3 separate regions of the Homo sapiens genome follow, and regions 1 and 2 are each reported to be linked to region 3. The links are microRNA targets in miRTarBase. Many come from high-throughput screens and were not tested one by one. Region 3 holds a microRNA gene; each other region holds the end of a gene's coding sequence.
The links. The annotated mature microRNA hsa-miR-6812-5p reads AUGGGGUGAGAUGGGGAGGAGCAGC and lies in region 3 at 1,938-1,962, opposite strand. An mRNA with a match to its seed (bases 2 to 7 or 8) in the 3' UTR can be bound and repressed. Matches are read on the target gene's strand: a 7mer-m8 pairs with bases 2 to 8, a 7mer-A1 pairs with bases 2 to 7 and ends in A, and an 8mer does both.

Region 1 (4,000 bases), not on the chromosome of region 3:
AAATCTGAGATGTTTGTACGCTCTGAGATGTTGAACCTTTCTGGTGGGCAGCACCGACACCCAGGGGTGGACCCCCGAGGATGAATGCCTCTAGGCCTCCGCAACATATTCAAGAATGAATGGGAGACGCTAGAGTAAAATGGGGGCAGAGAGGATATCAGGGAGCAAGATGCAAACTGTGTGCATCCACTCTCGTAAACAAGTAGCTGGTCACAACCAGAAAGGTTCATCTCTCCTAAGCAAACAGCGACTCTTTCAGAGGAAGTTTCCCTCTTTCAATCGTGGCCTTATTTTCAACTCCGGTGCCTTCTCGTGATGTTAATCATTTCCTTTTTTCCCCACACTAAGCTCTCTTTTCTATCTTTCTCTCTCTTTCCAATCTTACGCCATGGCCATCAGTTCATTTCAGCCTTCCAGTGCTACACCCACTTCTTGGCTGACACACTTCTGCTCTAAGGTGACTGGTTTTCTTGCCAATTTTCAAAGAGTGGTACTAACCCCCAACCCGCTTTCCGCACCCCGTCCTCTCCGCCAGCAGTACTGGTTGCACTAACTGTGAGTGTCTTGCATACTGATGGACTCATTTGGTGGCATGGTTGGCTAACAGCATGGCGGGGGGTGTTCAGCTTGAGACCCATGCCTGTGTTCATTTCCCATGGAGCTGGCAGCCTGGTCTACCCCAAGTGCATGCCCCGCCTCTCCTCTCTCCCTTGGGTCTGCCTGCGTGCATGCTTCTCCAGTTGCGTCTGCGAAGCTACCTACTTTCTTGGGAGGGTCGACCTTGATCATGAAACAATACCATGAGGGGGCCTCTGTCACCTTTGAAAAGAACACTTTTTGAGCAGCCTCAAAAAGCTCATACATACCAGCGCCTTCTTAAATTGGCTCTAATGTAAAGATTGTTAATGTCATTTATCAAAACCATAGGTGATTATTTGGAGGGATTTAAAAAACTTAATTACTCTCAGGCCTCATCCCAAGCTTGACACATGCTCTGTAGGTTGAACACATAATCACAAATATTCTAGCAAATGCTGCCTTGGTTGCAGCCTGCACTGTAGACCCAAGGGTTTTGCTGTGGCTCTTCTTATCTCCCTTGGCTCATAAAGCCCCAGATGATGCCAGAGCTTCAATTAGAGCCATCATCATCCCAGGCAGGGATATCTTTGAGAAATGACTCAGTTCAGCCCCAGGCCCCTGTGACTCTGCTTAAAGCACACATTTCTGCTGACTCTTGTACCTGGGGCAGCAGGATAATCACCAACACACTCTTAACGAGAAACAACACACCAAGCACCGTGGAGCTGTCCTAGGCAACACTCGCGGTCTCAGGCTGCGGTGGGCGTCTGTCCTGCATGTGGCCCAGACCACCCTGACCCCCGGGCCTGCCTGCCTGGCCCTGCATGCTGCACGCTCACTGTATTTGTGCAGATCCTGGCCAGTACAAAGTCGTTGCTCTTGTCTTATCTTCTCTTACAGAGTCTCCCTCCCTTTATAGAATGTCAACCAAAGAGTGCCCTCCTCCCCTCTCAGCCTCCTCTTTAGCTAGCCTCCCCATCTCATCACAACGCATGTCTGTGACCTTTGGTAATCATTTACAGTGCCACACGGAACCCTGTATTTTGCACACAGCAAAACAAACAATGTTTAGCTTTATTTATGGTATTTGATGCTGTAAATGGAAATAAATATTGTTCTTTATAAAGCTCATTGTTTCCTCTCTTCTTTGCCGTGGAAGCTTCTAAAACCTCACACACAGGGATTGGTGTAGGGGGTTCATTTTCCCTAAACTGCTGGCGGGACTTGCACTTGAGGTAACACAGGACTCTCTGGGGCTGCGCTGGGCACTCTGAAAGGAAATATTACCCCTGGGTAATATTTGGAAACTGTCACCAATGCTCCTGGGCTAGGCTTTGGGATCTCTTTCTTGAACACTCATTGTACTTTGCTGTTCTAGATGCTGGGCATAGTGGGTGAGGGTCAGTGTCCCCTCAGCGATTAGAAGCAGACTGTATTGATGGCTACCTTTACCCGTTTCCCCCGCACACCCAAGCGTGGCTCTACAGGAGAGCTTTCCCCATGAACCTTACACTAATTTAGGTTCCTATTCAGCAAAGGTTGGTCTGGAACACTTCACGCTGGTGCACAGCTGAGTGGCAAGTGGAAGGTAAGTAGGAAGGACTGGGCATCAATATTAGGATGGCAATGAAGTTGGCAGTGTGCTCATCAGATGGAGAGCCACTGCCATCCTAAGAGACCTCTCCTGTCCCAAAGGCTCAGGGTATTCAGTATCTATGGTGTGAGGCCCTGCCCTAGCACCACCCGAAGTATAGTATTCATGGCAGGCCCCAGGCAACTCCAGGCTGTGTTTAAGGGAAAGATTTGGAGCCTCACTTGGCTATCCTGGGCAGTGCCAAAGTCATCTGGTCCTCAGCCTCCCCTGGGTGGGATGCCTGCCATTTCCTGGCTGGGCGTAGCTGGGCGTAGCTGGGCTTCTGACAGTGGTATGAAAAGTCACCTGTGAACCTCATGAGGTCCCTGGCACCTCCAAATGGGTGTTCCTGAGGCTCTGGTCTCTGATGCCTGGATCTACCTTCAGAGCTGCCTCAGGTCATGACCAAGGGTTCTGTACTCTTACCTGGGTGATATATTCCCACTTCCATTTAAGGAGGGATGTTAGGGACTGTAAGTCAGGTGCTGGGCTGTGCAAGTGACTCATTCCTTTATGCATTCATTTATTCAGCAAATGTTTGTCCTAGGCCTTATTCTAAGCCCTAGGTACAGCAGGGAACCATGCGAAGTCCCCACACCTCCCTGCACCTTAGAGATGTGGCTCAGTATTGCTGTACTAGATGAGATCTGTTATATTTAACTGTGCATGTGCTCATTTGTTTGCTCAACTCTGTGATATTTCCTGAGCATCTACTATGTACTAGGAATACAGCAGGGAGTAAAGCAGACAAAAATCGTCACTTTATTGTCAAAGCGTGACACCCCAAGTGGTGCTTCACCAACAAAGGAGTCCATGATCACAACATTTGAGGAATATTTTGTACTGATCTTGCCAGTCCTCCCCCGTCCTGGAGACTAGCAAGATTCATTAGCATGTCAAGTCTCTGAGGCATCCTTGTAGGGAAGTTTAATCAACTTTGTGAAAGTCAGCTGTCCCATACTTATGTGAACATTTTGTTTTTGTTTTGGTTTGCTTTTTTTGAATATTGCATTCTACATACATAGTTTTGGTAGACTAGTGTTTAATTCAGAGATATTGGATTAAAGACTTAGAATTTTAAAAGGAAAACCATATAATTAAATATTAAATGGAATTAAGTATTGATTAGATATGGGGTGATAACCTTCTAAGCATAAATCCTCTAATAGGAAGAACACCACACAGGGAAAACATGACACAAATCTGATTATATACATTTTTAAAACTTAATGTAGAGTAATAAAATATTAAATAGACCATTAGACTAGGGAAAAATATGAACTAAATGTAATAACAAAGAAGTTCATTGCATGGTATTTTCAAGGTTCATTTAAAACAGATGTTCCTGGGCACCTCTCATAGTGTAGATGATCAGTTAATATTTGTTGATTAAAGAGTCAATGATAAATAGGCAAAGGCTATGAACAGGCAATTTACCCTTAAGCAAATTTTAAAAGTAAACACTAAAAAGAAAAAGCAAGCATTTACAAAAGTATTCCTACTTGGTTTTTAAAGGAAGTAAATTAATTATGGTGCACATGGGCCAGGTGCGGTAGCTCACACCTGTAATCCCAGCACTTTGGGAGGCTGAGGCGGGCAGATCACTTGAGGTCAGGAGTTCGTGACCAGCCTGACCAACACGACAAAACCCTGTCTCTACTAAAAAAAAATTAGCTGGGCACGGTGGCACATGCCTTTAATTCCAGCTACTTGGGAGGCTGAGGCACGAGAATCACTTGAACCCAGGAGGCAGAGGTTGCAGTGAGCTGAGATCATGCCACTGCACTC
Region 2 (4,000 bases), not on the chromosome of region 3:
CAAGGTGAAAATGGGATTGTTAGCAGAAAAGACAGGCAGCAGGCTTTAGTGGGTAGTTCTAGCCTCTCATTTTTACTTTCCTCATCTCGTCCGTCCAGTAAGCTTCTCAACACTGAAACATGACATAAATAAGAAAAAAAGATAGGGGGAGGAAATAATTGTGACATTTTTCTGACCGTAATAGATTTTTGTTGTTTTTTTTGTTGTTGTTGTTGTTTGTAGGCTTTCCAGTCAATAACAGCAGCAGTGATAATGCTCAGAACTTTAGTTTTAAAACAAACTCTGGATTTGCTGCTGCCTCTTCTGGAAGCCCTGCTGGTTTTGGGAGTTCCCCAGCATTTGGAGCTGCAGCCTCTACCAGTTCAGGTATCTCTACTTCTGCTCCAGCTTTTGGATTTGGGAAGCCTGAAGTCACATCGGCTGCATCATTTTCATTCAAAAGCCCTGCAGCTTCCAGTTTTGGATCACCTGGATTTTCAGGACTTCCAGCTTCCTTGGCAACAGGTCCTGTCAGAGCTCCAGTGGCCCCAGCCTTTGGAGGTGGCAGTTCTGTGGCTGGTTTTGGTAGTCCGGGCTCACATTCTCACACTGCTTTTTCTAAGCCATCCAGTGACACTTTTGGAAATAGCAGCATATCCACTTCTCTGTCAGCCTCAAGCAGCATCATTGCAACAGATAATGTGTTATTCACACCCAGAGATAAACTAACAGTAGAAGAACTGGAACAATTTCAATCCAAGAAATTTACTCTGGGAAAAATTCCATTAAAGCCTCCACCTCTGGAACTTCTAAATGTTTAAAAGGGCAATTTTAAATACAAAAAAGAATGATGTTTAAAATTGCTTTGAGTGATTCATACAGAGATGTATATATGCATACATGTATATATTCATAAGGAATATAAGCTTCCATCAATAGTGATTTTAAATTTGATTTTTTTCTTAACTCTAAATATTTAAGTAAAAAGTAACAAAAACTCTGCAAGCAAGGGAATTTTTTTGTACTGTAATTTTGAATGGAACTGAAAAATTATGCACGAATAAAGTACTTTTCTCATGCCATACCACTTTACTGTCTCACAATTTAAAGTTTTAAACTTTTTTTTTTAGGAAGGAGATAATTTCTGTAATTATTAGGGGGAACATGCTCAAATATTTAACCTACTTTTAGAGTAAACATTAGTAGCATGACTTCATGTTCAGGATTCTCTCAAAGAGATAAATCAGTTTGTAAAGAGTGACAAGCTTTTAGTTTTAGAACCATAGGGGCATTTCCCCCCCGATAAGTTTGGTTCCCTCTCAACTTTGGCGGTCTCGTGGACCACCATTTGAGTTTTCTTCAACAATCTTAGGCTGCTTTTTATTTTGGCCTCACTTTTATAGAATTCTATTTATTCATCACATTAGTCTGTCAAATGGATGAGTTGTAAGAGAAACAAATTGTGATCTCATGTGAATAAATAATGTGTGTAGTGGGGTCAGGATTCACCAGTTTCTGTTTCTAGATCTTCTCAGGCATGGCCAGGTACAGTAGCTCACACCTGTAATCCCAGCACTTTGGGAGGCTGAAGCGGGCAGATCACTTGAGGTCAGGAGAGTTCGAGACCAGCCTGGCCAACATGGTGAAACCCTATCTCTACTAAAAATACAAAAAATAAGCTGGGTGTGGTGGCGGGCACCTGTAATCCCAGCTACTCAGGTGGCTGAGGCAGGAGAATCACTTGAACCCGGGAGGCAGAGGTTGCAGTGAGCTGAGATCACACCACTGCCCTCCAGCCTGGGTGACAGAGCGATACTCCATCCCCTTTCCTGCCCTCCCCCAACAAAAAAAGAATTATTGTGCATGTTTGGATCTCCCTGTGTCCTCAGATTGAGGGAGTAAGATTTATATTTTACATATGGATGATCCAAGAAACTAAATGCCTGTCACGAGTTGAAGCAGGTATATCAGACTTCTGCGCTTTCTCAGTCCTCAAAAATTGCATAGCTAGCACTGCCAGAGCAGTTACTAACACGGTTCTGGCATTCAGCTGATTTTTCTAAGTGAATATAAAACCTTACATAATAAAAGATATGCCCTCCAAATGATTTTAACGTATGCAAAGGATTCAGTCCTCAAAAGACCTGCATTCTCCATTACACTTTTGTTGTTGTTCTTGTTGTTGTTGTTGTTATTGTTGTTGAGACGGAGTCTCACTCTGTCGCCCAGGCTGGAGTGCAGTGGCGCGATCTCGGCTCACTGCAAGCTCCGCCTCCTGGGTTCACGCCATTCTCCTGCCTCAGCCTCCTGAGTAGCTGGGACCACAGGCGCCCACCACCACGCCCGGCTAATTTTTTTGTATTTTTAGTAGAGACGGGGTTTCACCATGTTAGCCAGGATGGTCTTGATCTCCTGACCTCATGATCCGCTTGCCTCAGCCTCCCAGATTTCTGGGATTACAGGCATGAGCCACCATGCCTGGCTCCATTACACTTTTTGAGGAGCTGCATGACTCATCTGACAGTTCTGGAACCCCAGTGTTTGGTACAGAATCTATACTATAACCAGGGGATATATATTTGAAACCATGCTGGTGTAGAGATGGTAAATAGAGCATAAGTTCCTTTAGAAGGAGCAAGATTAAAACAAAAAGAGCATAAATTCCTTCTTTGGTCTCAAGCTCTACAGACTTTCCAGTATTCGAACTAATACTTGAATCCTAGAATTTTCCTGCCCCGCCCCCCCCCCCCCCGGGATGACCCCTACACTACCTCTAAATTGCATACAAGCTCCCTGAGGTCTCAGTTGAACTTCCCAGTGTCCTGGAAGATCTCAGAAAATCCTAGTTAAAAGCCCATTGTTTCCAACTGTGCCTGATTATAGGAATCACCTGGGGTGTTAAATAATATATCCAGATAACATATCCAAATTACAGGAGCTGCCCATTGGGATGGGCTTGGGAATATGTCAACAGGTATTCCTTGTGGTCCTTCAGGCAAGTTTGGGAAACAGGACTATCCAGCTGGATTTAGGCTACTTAGTAATACCTGATTTGGGAGTTTTAATTGTTGAAGTCTGTTTTCTGTGCTCCCATATAGACAAAAATGTGGGAATTTAACAGGATCCGAAGTTTTTTAAAAAGCACAAATAAGTGCTACAGGCTACTAAAAAATTTTGAGAAACTAAAGCAGAGAGGCCCACAAAGTAGAAACTAGCACCATGCATACATACTGGTGTCAGAAGTCAAGAAAACTGGTAACTCCCAGACCTAGGCTAAGGGGCATCGCGGCTTCAGAAAATCAGAAACAGGTAACAATGAGGTGGCAGCAGCTGGGTATAAAGGTAGGTTGAGTGTTCAGACCCCAAGAGGGAGGTAGTAGAAGGGAAAAGGCACCCACAACAAAAGGATGTGCCAGCATCTTCTGGATGGTATCTCCTAATCTCATATCCAGTGAGACTAGCAGAGCTGGACTAACTAAGAGGCATACCCTAAAATAGGCAAAAATAGCCTGCCTTCACAGCTGCTGTAATAGCTGTCCTTTTCACCTAAGGTCTAGAGCAAGTGACAGAATTGTAGATAAGGTATAGCAAATAAACTGATTTAACTCGATTGATTATCTGATCACAGATTAGAAGGGGAGAATGGTAACAGCTGAGAGCTGATTAAAAGGGGAGAGAAAGTGAGCTGATATTAAAACTAAAAGGTATAAAATGATTTAGCTATGCAGTATTATTCATGAGTAAAATAATTCAACTTGAAGCATCAAACAATGATTTAATTGTGGTAGATACATACATTGGAATACTAAACAGCCTTTCTAAATGACTTAATAGAGAATAACTTGGAAATGTTTTCATTCTGCAATCAGTGGACGAGAGTTTGCTATAAAAAGAGCATGTACAGTGTGATCCAATTTGGAGAGAAAGAATATATTAATGGGGGGGAGGCTAAAACTTAACAATAATAGCTCAAATTTTAGTGAGTTTTTGCTATGTGCCAGACAATGTCCTAAGCATTCTG
Region 3 (4,150 bases):
GAAGTCAAAGGACAGCAGCCAGCTGATAAGGAACACGTGTTAAGTCCAAGGCAATCTGGAAGCAAAGGCGTGGGGCACGGACACGTCAAGGGAAACTTCCCGGAGGCAGCAACTTCTCATCTGGGGTGTGTGTGTGTGTGTGTGTGTTTGAGACAGAGTCTCACTCTGTCACCAGGCTGGAGTACAGTGGCGCAATCTTGGCTCACTGCAACCTCTGCCTCCCAGGTTCAAGCGATTCTCCTGCCTCAGCCTACCGAGTAGCTGGGACTACAGGCGCGCGCCACTATGCCCAGCTAATTTTTTTTTGTATTTTTAGTAGAGACGGGGTTTCACCATGTTGGCCAGGATGGTCTCGATCTCTTGACCTTGTGATCTGCCCACCTTGGCTTCCCAAAGTGCTGGGATTACAGGCATGAGACACCGTGCCCGGCCAGCCTCATCTGGTTTTATGAGGGAACCAGGCAGTTGAGAGGTGTGCATGGTTGGTGGAATAGGGCATTCTAGGCCAAACCACTATGATGGGAGAACTGAGTGGGGTAGGAGGTGGGGGGAACTGCAAATAACACACAGTTGATGCCAAGTGTGCCAGAGGAAAAGACAGAAGATGAGGGCAGTGGGAGGCAACCGCCTAAAGGCTTGTTTTACAGAAATCCAGGGTTATGTAACCAGCAAGGGAGGTGGGCGGGGCGGGCTTCAATCCAATGAGCCTGGCTTCAAAGCCTGGGGGTGGTCTGAGGACAGAGCACAGCAGGAGCTCCTGAGAAGCCTGCTAAAAAGTCAAAGTCTGGGCCACACCCAGACCAACTGAATTAGTAGGATCTGGACCCCAGGAACATACATTATTTTCACAAGTGCCCCCAGTGACTCTGATGCACACTACAGTTAGAGACCCACCACCCAGAGCCCTCCCACCTCTCCACTCTACCCTTGCTGATGTGGACTGACTCTCAATGCCCCCAAGAAGTAGGATGATTCATTTCCATGGCCATGGATTATGCTTTCAGAAACACTCCCAAACAACCCGGGGAGTTCTGGGAATCACAATCAGATGGGGATGGGGAGGACAGGGGGAGCAGATCAGGAGAAGAAATTTCCGGCCAGGTGGGAGGAGGTAGGGTTTTTTGTTTTTTGTGGAGGGGGTTGCAGGCATAGGGTAGGAGGTCCTGTTCAGGCACTCAGCAAACAATCCCCAGTCCCCAGCTCTTCCCAGGACTCAAGGACAAGAGGCAAAGAACCACGGAAACAGCCGTTTTTATTCCACAAACAGTAAACTCCATCCACTACACAGTGACATACACTGTGTAGCACACCCCATCACCTTGGCCAGTGCTGCCAGCCGACCTTTCTGTGGTGATGGAAATCTTTTTCTGTGCTGTCCAATACAGCAGCCACCGACCACTTTTGCTTATTGAGCACCTCAATATAGAGGTGGCCACTACAGGTGAGGAAATGAATTTCTAAGTTAATTCAAATTCAAATGCCACATTTGGCTCGTGGCTCCTGTACTGGACAACACAGCTGTAGGCCCTGACCTGGTCCAGGGCACTTTGGTTCAAAAGCCAACTCTGAGGAGAGCAAGTGGCAGAAACAGCCCTTGGGCTCCCCTCCCCAGAGAGAAACGGCAGCTGCAGCTGCTGGAAAGGGCAAGAATCAGAGTGGGGGGACACCTCGGGCGCGCCGGATAAGGTTGGCCAGCCGCTTGGCCAGGCCACCTGTGCGGGGCTCCTCGATGTGGAAGGTTCGGGTGAGGAGATTGTAGAAGGAGCCATAGCACACGGCCACCACAGTGCACGTGAGGCAGATCACGTTGTAGGGCATGCTGAAGTCCGGTGTCGGCAGGTTCACCAGCAGCGGCTCCGTGTAGAGCCGCACAAAGTAGTTAGAGCCATCAGAGACTGGGAACCTGGGGTCAGGGGAAGAGCGGTGAGACAGGACTGGCTGCTCCTCCCCATCTCACCCCATCCTCATTCCGGCAGTATTGGGCAATGCAACACAGTGTTTCCAATGTTCTCTTAGGCTCAAAACCTTTCAACAGAAGGCATAGCTCAATCTCTAAACCTGATAAAGGGGAGCGGCGGGCGGGGGGCAAGGGGAGGGAGAGCATTAGGACAAATACCTAATGCATGCGGGGCTTAAAACCTAGATGATGGGTTGATGGGTACGGCAAACCACCGTGGCACATATATACCTATGTAACAAACCTGTATGTTCTGCACATGTATCCCAGAACTTAAAGTAAAATAAAAAATAAATAAGAAAGAAAGAAAGAGAAAGAAAGAAAGAAAGAAAGAAAGAAAGAAAGAAAGAAAGAAAGAAAGAAAGAAAGAAAGAAAGAGAAAGAAAGAAAGAGAGAGAAAGGAAAGAAAGAGAGACGCCTGGTGTTGAGGTGGAGGAAAGGGGCCCCGCCTTTGCTTGGTTGCTTCTTTCTTAGCCTGGTTTCAGCCTAAATGCCACCTCCTAAATGAAGCCTTCCTAGATAACCCAGTAAATCAATTCCTACCCAACCTCTAACCCCATTACTCTCTAGACCAGAATCTTCCTTCTAGACTGTAAGCAAAGGGAGGCCAGGGCCAAGTCTGTTTTGTTTAATCTTGCACACTCAGTGCTCTCAGAAGCACTTGGCATTTGATAAGTGCTTGATTAAATATTTAAGAGCATCAAGAAGTAAATGTAGGCTGTAAGTAAAAGTATTCTTCTAGAAGCACTTTAAAATCATTTTATAAAGTCTTCACAAATTCCACAGACTGCCAGGATTTTTATTAGGATTGAATTAAATCTACACATCTCTTTGGAAGATGTAACATCTACCCTGAACTCCCCTGCAGGAGCCTGGTCACCTGTGTTAAGGCCCAGCAGGCAGCTGAGGATGTGTTATCAGTGAGTGTGGTCACACTTACAGGCTGTTGAAGAGGGGACTCTCTTCCCAGTCCACTGGCTTGGCTGCTACCATGCTGGGCACAAGGGCGCTGAGGACAGATGGGCTACAGAGAAGCAGAGAGATGGCCCGTGTTCCCATCTGGCTGCCCTATCAAGGGGTAAGCAGCAGAAAGGGTAGGTCAGGGGGATGAGAGGTGGCCTGTGGGGGTGGAGCCCACCTGACATAGAAGCCATGGTTAGGATCTGGCGTGTACTCGGTCCACTTCAGCAGCGCCCGCTCAAACTGGATGGAAACCTTGGTGACTGAGTTGGCCGGCAGCTGAATCAGCATCTCCAGGAGGTGGGGTTGCAGCCGGTCCTGGGCAGGCTGGTAGTGGATGTAACCTGGAGACATGCAAGGTCACCCACATCTCTTTCCTGGGGTCAGGCTACCTGCTGCCCCTGTCCCTGCTGCTTGCCATGGAGCCTCAATCTGGGTGCCTAGAAGATGGGCTTGGGAGCATAGAAGCCAGGCAGGCAAGGGAAGAAAGCAGGGGCTAAGAAAAGGGAGAGGATGTTTCCAGGGCAGTGATCCCAGGATGCGATCAAGAGAGGTTGTTAGGAGTGCTGCAGATGGCTAATCAATCTTCACATCACTACAACTGGGGCACCAGACACCAAGTGCCTGATGTGACGCAAGAAGAAGTTCACAGAACCACCTGGGAATTTTTCTTGCCAAAAATGTGGGACATGAATCTAATCAGGTTTCTAAATCTAACCACCAACACACAAGAAATATAGGAGAGGAGGGGTGTGTTAAACACTAGCACAAGGACAAACCCAGAATGTGGAACATTCTACACAACAAATGACCCAGTTTCTTCAACAAATAAATGACATTAAAAAAAAAAAAAAAAGGCATGGGCACTGCTACAGATGAAGAGAGACTGAAGAGTACCACACCAAAGACAAGACATTTATAATAAGGGACATTCTGGGTGTGGAGACAGGGAGTATATGGGAACTCTGTGCTTTGTGCTCAGTTTTTCTGTAAACCTAAAACTGCTCTAAGAATAGTCTAGTAATTTTAAAGAAAAAGAAACTTTTTTTTTTTTCGTGACAGGGTCTCACACTGTCGCCCATGCTGAAGTGCAATAGTATGATCATGGCTCACTATAGCCTTGACCTCCTGGGTTCAAGTGATCCTCCCACCTCAGCCTCTTGAGTAGCTGGGACTACAGGCGTGCAACACCACCCCCAGCTAATTAAAAACAATTTATTTTAATCCCAGCAC

Region 1: the mRNA of MICAL2 is a reported target of hsa-miR-6812-5p. The part of its 3' UTR that is shown has no 7-base or 8-base seed match.
Region 2: miRTarBase lists NUP42 as a target of hsa-miR-6812-5p. The part of its 3' UTR that is shown has no 7-base or 8-base seed match.

What each region holds. Positions count from the first base shown.
Region 1 is chr11:12,262,081-12,266,080 of GRCh38, forward strand. MICAL2 (microtubule associated monooxygenase, calponin and LIM domain containing 2) reads left to right here. Exons shown (of 28, transcript NM_001282663.2): 27 at 400-457; 28 at 1,480-1,705. The coding sequence ends at 440. Among named protein-coding and RNA genes, the nearest start is that of MIR6124, 100 kb to the left of the region's middle.
Region 2 is chr7:23,199,946-23,203,945 of GRCh38, forward strand. It overlaps NUP42 (nucleoporin 42), which reads left to right. Exons shown (of 7, transcript NM_007342.3): 7 at 223-1,061. The coding sequence ends at 800. Among named protein-coding and RNA genes, the nearest start is that of NUP42, 20 kb to the left of the region's middle.
Region 3 is chr20:45,423,327-45,427,476 of GRCh38, reverse strand. It overlaps MIR6812 (microRNA 6812), which reads right to left and starts at 1,967; the gene lies at 1,904-1,967. PIGT (phosphatidylinositol glycan anchor biosynthesis class T) reads right to left here. Exons shown (of 12, transcript NM_015937.6): 10 at 3,096-3,261; 11 at 2,898-2,981; 12 at 1,236-1,903. The coding sequence ends at 1,651. LOC105372631 (a long non-coding RNA gene) reads right to left here and starts at 55. Exons shown (of 4, transcript NR_159957.1): 1 at 1-55.